Linked DNA regions of Homo sapiens: region 1 is linked to region 2. Evidence: fine-mapped expression QTL. A gene starts in region 2. The other region holds a variant in brackets. All regions are shown on one strand. Distances are between the middles of the regions.

What was found. PIP is the estimated chance that this variant, and not a neighbour inherited with it, causes the effect.
Region 1: its variant is the best candidate, but not a certain one, in a credible set for the expression of IMP3 in regulatory T cells (Schmiedel 2018, PIP 0.70).

Annotation. Positions count from the first base shown.
Region 1 is chr15:75,566,203-75,570,588 of GRCh38, forward strand. All of the region lies in intron 1 of PTPN9 (protein tyrosine phosphatase non-receptor type 9), which reads right to left. Among named protein-coding and RNA genes, the nearest start is that of PTPN9, 11 kb to the right of the region's middle. The variant A/C (reference allele first, on the strand shown) is at 2,318.
Region 2 is chr15:75,638,062-75,642,400 of GRCh38, forward strand. IMP3 (IMP U3 small nucleolar ribonucleoprotein 3) reads right to left here and starts at 2,163. Exons shown (of 1, transcript NM_018285.4): 1 at 1,032-2,163. The coding sequence starts at 2,107. The coding sequence ends at 1,553. RefSeq lists an enhancer at 1,808-1,867 and a silencer at 2,158-2,317.

The DNA.
Region 1 (4,386 bases), 72 kb before region 2:
ATCTACCAAAGGGTCATCACCATCACATCCCAAAAGGCCTAGGTTTTACTTATAAATCTTCTAGTTTATAAAAAGGCCAGATTTGCAATAATATTAAAAACTGAGATCTCAGCATTTAATAGCATAATCTTAAACGTGTAAAGAACACATAGTACTTTTCAGAAAGTGTTATTTTTCATTATAAAAGAAACGTAAGTGGCGGGACACAGTGGCTCATGCCTGTAATCCTAGCACTTTGGGAGGCCGAGGTGGGCAGATGACCTGAGGTCAGGAGTTTGAGACCAGCTTGGCCAAAATGGCAAAACCCCATCTCTACTAAAAATTTAAAAATTAGCTGGGCATGGTGGCAGGCACCTGTAGTCCCAGCTACTTGGGAGGCTGAGACAGAATTGCTTGAAGCCAGGAGGCGGAGGTTGCAGTGAGCTGAGATCGCACCACTGCACTCCAGCCTGGGCGACAGAGTCTCACTCTGTCTCAAAAAAAAAAAAAGAAAGAAACATATGGGCTGGGCACAGTGGTTCATGCCTATAATCTTAGCATTTTGGGAGGCTGAAGCGGAAGGATAGCTTGAGCTCAGGAATTTCAGACCAGCCTGGGCAACATAGTGAGGTCCTATCTCTATTAATGAGAAAAAAAAATTAGCTGGATGTGATGACACGGGCCTGTGGTCCCAGCTACTCAGGAGGCTGAAGTGGGAGCATCGCTTGAGCCTGGGAGGTCAAGGCTGCAGTCAGCCATAACTGTGCCACCACATTCCAGCCTCGGCAACAGAAACATATGATCATTGTAGATCATCTAAATAGCCCATTTTTTTTCTTTTTTTTTTTTTTTCAGATGCAATCTCACTCTGTCGCCCAGGCTGGAGTGCAGTGGCGTGATCTCGGCTCACTGCAACCTCCACCTCTCATGTTCAAGTGATTCTCCTGCCTCAACCTCTGGAGTAGCTGCAATTACAGGCGTACACCACCATGCCTGGCTAATTTCTTTGTATTTTTAGTAGAGACGGGGTTTTGCCATGTTGGCCAGGCTGGTCTTGAACTCCTGACCTCAGGTGATCCGACTGCCTTGGCCTCCCAAAGTGCTGGGATTACAGGCGTGAGTCACCGCGCCCAGCCTTAAATAGCCCATTTTTTAAAAGATTGGTTGTAATAATGATGTATATAATGAATATCATCATATTATCATAATGACGTGTATCTGTAATAATGATTCACATCAAAACAAATGCAAAGGTAAAGATTAGCTAGGTGTTCAAGCAATGAACAAGTAACTAATGGATGAACATCCCCAAACACTTCAGTCCTAAAGTCACAGATGACTTTTTTAGAACCTGCCCAGAAATTACTGTAGAAATAAATTCTGGCTTCAGAATAATTCAATAAACTTACCTGTGCTACCTACACTGAAAAAAGTGACAAGTACTGTGCCGGTATGTTGTGGATGGATTTGGTATTTCAGAGGAAACTGGTACATACTACAGAAACGGCCTTTCCCAAAGGAAAAATGAAATGCTGCCAGGCGCGGTGGCTCACGCCTGTAATCCCAGCACTTTGGGAGGCCGAGGTGGGTGGATCACAAGGTCAGGAGATCAATACCGTCCTGACTAACACGGTGAAACCCTGTCTCTATTAAAAATACAAAAAATTAGCCGGGCGTGGTGGCAGGCGCCTGTAGTCCCAGCTACTCAGGAGACTGAGGCAAGAGAATGGCATTAACCCGGGAGGTGGAGCTTGCAGTGAGCCGAGATTGTGCCACTGCACTCCAGCCTGGGCGACACAGCGAGACTCCGTCTCAAAAAAAAAAAAAAAGAAAACAAAAACTGAAATGCTTATCTCAGAAGCATAAATTAAAGAGAAAAATCATCTCTAATCTACTGTTTCGGTCTTACCATTTTATAGTTTGGACCTAAGAGATCAGCAATCCTTAATAAATAAGGTTTCCCATGAGTTCTGGAGCTTCTCTGCCTCCTGTTCGCACCCTCCATGTCCATGTTTAACAACCTAATGCCAGCCAGGTGCAGTGGCTCATGGCTGTAATCCCAGCACTTTGGGAGGCCGAGGCTGGAGGATCACTTGAGCCTAGGAGTTTAAGACCAGCCTGGGCAACAGAACGAGACCCTGTCTCTACAACAAATAAAAAATAAAAAATCTAACTGGGCATGGTGGTGTGGTGGTGCACGCTTTTAGTCCCAGCTTCTTGGGAGGCTGAGGTAGGAGGATTCCTTGGGCCAGGGAGGTCAAGGCTTCAGCAAGCCATGATCATGCCACTGCACTCCAGTCTGGGTGACAGAGTGAGACCTTGTCTCAAAAAAAAAAAA[A/C]AAAACAAAACAAAAAAAAAACAACCTAATGCTGGATGGACACAGTGGCTCATGTCTGTAATCCTAGCACTTTGGGAGGCCGAGGCTGGAAGACTGCTTGAACACAAGAGTTCGGGACCAGCCTAGGCAAGAAAGCAATACCCCCATCTCTTTAGAAAAAAAAAAAAATGTGCCAGGCATGGTGGTACATGCTTGTAGTTCCAGCCACTATAGAGGCTGAGGAAGGAGGACCACTTGGGACCAGGAGTTTCAGGCTGCAGCGAGCTAGGATCAAGCCACTGCACTTCAGCCTGGGCAACAGAACAAGACCCTGTCTCTTACTAAAAAAATTTTAAAAAGTGAACCAAACGCTTAAGAAGCTAACTCGGTTAGGTTCCTAAGGGGCCTTTTCAAAATCAGATATAAAAGGGCTGATGCCAGGCCCTCCAGCACTGAGAAGTGTAGGCTAAACTACCTTTTCTAGGAACATCTTCCCTTATTCTAGAAGAATAGGAATAGAAAACAGTGGTTATTTTAGTGGTCAGGAAGAGCAACCAAGATCTCGCATGGAGGTGTGCTTAGGGGGAAAATGTTAAAATAATTGATTAGGAAAAAGAAAGTACGAGAATTGTCTGATATACCAAGGCAGGATGGTAGACAGAAGCAGTGAAATGGCTGATATTACACTAGAGGTTGTATCTGAACAAATAATCAGGGTTAGGTTCTATGACTTCTAATCTTGGCACTGCAATGGACCAGCCACACTGCCGTAAAATGGGGCTTAATATTTAGAAAATAAAGTTTAAGTACTCCAAAATTACTATGTCTTTTCCAAGACAATAAAGGCATAAAAGTCAGAAAATGAAACTAAAATATACTCACAATGAGTCTTAACTTTTACCTCTTTAAAACAGTTTAGCTCCTGGCCAGGCATGGTGGCTCACGCCTGTAATCCCAGCACTTTGAGAGGCCGAGGCGGGCTGATCACCTGAGGTCAGGAGTTCAAGAGCAGCCTGGCCAATAAGCTGAAACCCCATCTCTACAAAAAATACAAAAATTAGCTGGGCGTGGTGGCGGGCACCTGTAATCCCAGCTACTTGGGAGGCTGAGGCTGGAAAATCGCTTGAACCCAGGAGGCGGAGGTTGCAGTGAGCGGAGATAGTGACAAGAGTGAAACTCCATCTCAAAAAAAAAAAAAAAAAAACAGTTCAGCTCCTTTCTAAAGGAGGGTCTTTTCAATTCATTCATAAGTACTAGGTTGGGTTCCTTAGAGAAAACCTCCAGGCCACTTAATATTCACAAAACTAAAGTCCAAGACCCTTGTGCTCAGAATTTTTTTTTTGAGATGGATTCTCGCTTTGTCACCAGGCTGGAGGGCAGTGGCGCGATCTCAGCTCACAGCAACCCCTGCCTCCCGGTTCAAGCAATTCTCCTGCCTCAGCCTCCCGAGTAGCTGGGACTACAGGTGAGCGCCACCACTCCCAGCTAATTTTTGTATCTTTACTAGAGACGGGATTTCATCATGTTGGCCAGGATGGTCTTGATCTCTTGACCTTGTGATCCACCCGCCTCGGCCTCCCAAAGTGCTGGGATTACAGGCATGAGCCACACCACACCCAACCAGAAATTTTTAATACAGCAAAATTCTCACATCCAAATGAGGTTTTACCTAATTGTTACTTACAGTATCATAAACTATCAGCAATAATGAAAATAATAAGAGTTCTTCACCTTTCCTTCCTTCTTTGTCTCTGTAGAAGACCTCAATTTAACATCATAAATCATTTGGTCCTTGACGTATGGTAACTTCCAGGGAGACAGATGACATTTAGCACAGGACATGTAAGACTGTGGGAAAAGGGAAGTTCTTGGCCGCAAGAAATGGGACAAAACCCTTGCCTTTGGGAAAAATGCCAAAGATCTCTGAAGTCCACGCTAAAGCAGTTAAATTTTTAGCTTTAAAAGATTCCATTACAAAAATCCAAACCAGACTGGGCACAGTGGCTCATGCCTGTAATCCCAACACTTTGGGAGGCCGAGGCAGGAGGATTGCTTGAGCTTAGGAGTTCGTGACCAGCCTGGGCAACATG
Region 2 (4,339 bases):
CTATTTATTCTCCTTTTAGAAGGCTTGGCCAGGCACGGTGGCTCACACCTGTAATCCCAGCACTTTGGGAGGCTGAGGCAGGATTGCTTGAACTTAGGAGTTTGAGATCAGCCTAGGTAACATGCCAAAACCCTGTGTCTACAAAAATTAAAAACTAGCCAGGGGTGGTGGTACATGCCTATAATCCCAGCTACTGGGGAGGCTGAGGTGGGAGGACTGCTTGAGCCCAGGAGATCGAGGCTGCAGTGAGCTGTGACAGCTCCACTGCACTCCAGCTTGGGCCTTGTGTGAAAAAAAAAACAAAAAGAAAAAAGAATAAAGAAATCTTGAGTAAAACTTGGTAGTCTCCCTTCTTATTCTCTATCACTGCTATCATCTAAATTTCCAGGAACCTCCTGGGCCACTTCTAACCGCTAGATGGCCAAGCTACAGAGTGATTATTTCCTTAGGCAAGCAAACATCCCAGCCCTCTAATACGGTATTTCCTGGGGCTGGAATATCAACAGGAAGTTATGTGAGGAAGAGCTCTGCCAAAACACTCATTCCAAGGAAGGGACTGGTAAAGTGACAAATTTGCCCAATCCTGTACAACATCCTGCATCCTCCACATGTGGCCCTGTTGCACATCTAATCCACAGGCAGGTCACTCGCTGCTGACTCTATTCTTCTCTGGGCTCCTGGGACGTATAAATATGACTCTATGTAAGAAAACCAGAGGCTGGGCGCAGTTTGCTCATGCCTGTAATCCCAGCACTTTGGGAGGCCGAGGCGGGCGGATCACGAGTTCAGGAGTTCCAGACCAGCCTGGCCAACATGGTGAAACCCTGACTCTACTAAAACCACAAAAATTAGCCGGGCGCGGTGGCGGGCGCCTATACTCCTAGCTACTCGGGAGGCTGAGGCAGGAAAATTGCTTGAACCCGGGAGGCGGAGGTTGCAGTGAGCCGAGATCGCGCCACTGCACTCCAGCCTGGGTGACAGAGCAAGACTCCGTCTCTAGAGAAAAAAAGAAAACCAGACAGATTAAAAAGTTGCACTTACAAAGCAGTTGGGGCATTTATTGACATTTAAACAAGGGAGGAGATCCTGAACACTAGTCTCGCTCAGTTTATAAAAACTTGAGGCCAAACTCTCCATCATCTGTACACAGCTTAACCACGGCCAGGAGCAAGAATTCGAGTTAAACGAATTGAACCAGTCCAACCACAAGACGATAAAGGGAAACAGGGCGTGGGGATTTCCAGTTTTTCCTTTTACATTACAAAGTTTCCAACACAAGAAGCCAACAATACCCCAGTGCTGCACCAAGTTACTTCCCACTGTTTCCCAAGGCACAGTCAATTAATAATCAGTAGTCCAAGTTCTAAGAACATTCCCTGGAAAACAAGGACGCACCTCCCGTGGCTCTATGCATGGCCTGCCACTGATGAATCAAATTCTTAAGAACCTACGACCGTCTGATACCCTTGAGGAGAGCACCCTCATAGAATCTCCAGCATCAGGCCTCAGTTTTCCCATCTGTAAAAGACAGCCATGCAAAGTGGGAGATCCGCTAGGCTTCCAGATCGAAGTCATCGCGCTCCTCATTGTACTCTAGCACGTGCCGCTTGATCTTGGACGAGTCCACCCAAGTGACAAAGTCCTCCATGCTGCGCGTGACAAGGAAGGCGGGGTCGGTAACCACGTCAGGGCCCACGCGTACGTGCCCTTGCTCCACAAAGGCCACGGCAGCCTGAAGGTGCTGCGCCATGCGCAGCTTGAGGAGCACGGTGGGGAGGCGGCGGCGGCAGAAGGACGAGGCCGTGACGAAGTCGCAGAGCTCCAGCGAACCGCGCGTGGGCACCAAGCCGAGAGCATACAGCTTGTCCAGCAGCGCGGCCGAAGCGCGCACGCGGAACTGGTCGCGTTCGGGCAGGTCGCGCAGGCGCCGCGCCAGCTCACGCACGGCACGGCTCAGCTGGTTGTAGCGCGTGTAGTCCTCCCGCCGCTGCAGCCGGTAACGCCGCAGCACGCGCAGCTCGTGCAGGTTGTGGTCGGTGACCTCCCAGTTCAGGAAGTCCACCTGCTTCAGCAGCTTCTGCTCGTGGAACTTAAGCTTCCGCACCATGATGGCGGCAGCCGCAGCCGCAGGACCCGAAGCTGAGAGCGCGTTCTGGCATCCGCGCGATTTCCGCCGCGGCGCCCCAAGACCTGGACGGCCTGGGACCCTGGGCCAATGAAAGAAAGACTTAAAGTCACGCCCTCACTTCCCATTGGCCAGGGTGGGACCACGCCTCTGCACTGGGATCTCGCGTTTCTTCTTTTCTTCGCGTTTGCGAGGGAGGGGGTAGAAGCACCGGAGGTGGGTGGTTGGGAGCGGGTCCCTAGGCGGTTCCGCGCGGTTTTTAGTAGCCAAGACTGTATCCCTTTCTGCGGCAATCATTTCCTCCTAGACTTCTGTCCTTTGGGGACTTTCAGAGTCTCCCCCGCAAGAGCTGAAGAGGCCATTTCTGGGGAAGAGGGGTGACTGCGGCTTGTTGATTGGGTTTACTGTGCTAACTTGCACTGGGCTCCTGCCATGCCTTGGGGGAGCTTGCCGGAGCCGGCTCTCCTGGGGCTGACCTGGTAGTCCCCGCCGCCCGCCAGCGTCAGGTCCTTCACCTGGCATGCAGAGCGATCTCTCATTGTCAAGTTGGGATAGGTGGCACCGAACCCATGAAATACTGATTGGCTGCTTCCTAGGCCCACAGAAAAGGGATCTATAAGGGAGTCGCCTGGAAATCTGTATTATTAACTAAAGTGTCAGATGATTCATAAAACCCAGCAAGTTTGAGAAACTTGGACTATAACTACAAGTCCAAACCCTTTAGTCTGTGCTCAAATGAATTATCCTGACATGAATTTCTGGCCACCAAGCATTGAGTTAACAAATTTAATGCTGTTTCCGCTAGTTGCATCTGTAAGTTACATCTGAGTATAGCGCTGCAGACCTAACCCCTTTTTGCCCGGGCATTTGACGCCACCTAGCTTCTCACTGATCATTTTTGTTTTGTATGCTTTTCATTGTCTTTTACAATACAATATTTGAGGGTTGGGCGCGGTGGCACATGCCTGTAATCCCAGCACTTTGGGAGGCTGAGGTGGGAGGATCATTTGAGGCCAGGAGTTCAAGACCAACCTAGGCAAAAAAAAAAAGAAAAAAGAAGCGAGATCCCACCTCTGTAAAAAATCTTAAAGAATTAGCCAAGCATGGTGGTGCGCACCTGTAGTCCTGACTACCTGGGAGGCTGAGGGGGAAGGATCATTTGAGCCCAGGACTTGTAGGCTGCATTGAGCTACAATGGTGCCACCGCACCCCAGCTTGCACAACAGAGCCAGACCCTGTCTCAAAAAGATATATATATATATATAAAATATTCGATATCTGGAAAATAATATAATATGTAAATTATAAAGTATAATAAATACTCATAAACTTAGCCAGTTTAAGAAAACATCACCAGGCTAGGCATGGTGGCTCATGCCTGTAATCCCAACACTGGGAGGCCAAGGTGGGAGGATCACTGGAAGCCAGGAGTTCAAGACCAGCCTGGGCAACATAGTAAGACTCAGTCCCTATGGACAAAAAAAAAAAAAAAAAATTAGCCAGGCATGGTGGCAGCACCTATAGTCCCAGCTACTGGTGAGGGTTTCGGGGTAAGAGGGGGGAGGATCCCTTGAAGCCGGAAGTTCAAGGATGCAGTGAGCCATGATCACACTACTGCACTCCAGCTTGGGCAACAGAACAACATCCTGTCTCTAAAACAAACAGAAAGCTAATACAGATTGTTTGCTTTTTTAATCTAATTGATTTTTTCTTTTTTTTTTTTTGGAGATCGAGTCTTGCTCTCTCGCCCAGGCTGGAGTGCAGTGGTGTGATCTTGGCTCACTGCAACCTCCGCCTCCTGGGTTCAAGCTATTCTCCTGCCTCAGCCTCCTGAGTAGCTGGGACTGCAGGCACCTGCCACCACACCTGGCTAATTTTTTGTATTTTTAGTAGAGACGAGGTTTCACCGTGTTAGCCAGGATGGTCTCCATCTCCTGACCTTGTGATCCACCCACTTTGGCCTCCCAAAGTGCTGGGATTACAGGCATGAGCCACTGCACCCAGCCCCAGAGTAGGTCTTATTGAGAAGGTGATATTTTATAGGGGTTAAGCCATGTGTGGATATCTAGGGGGAGAACATTTCAGGAAGAGGAAACAGTGGAAATGCCTTAAGGCAGGAATGTGCCTGGCATGTCAGAAGAGTAAGAAAGCTATCTTGGCTGGAGCAGAGTGGGCAAGGAGGAGAGGAAGAGGTTAAAGAGCTTGTAGTCCCTT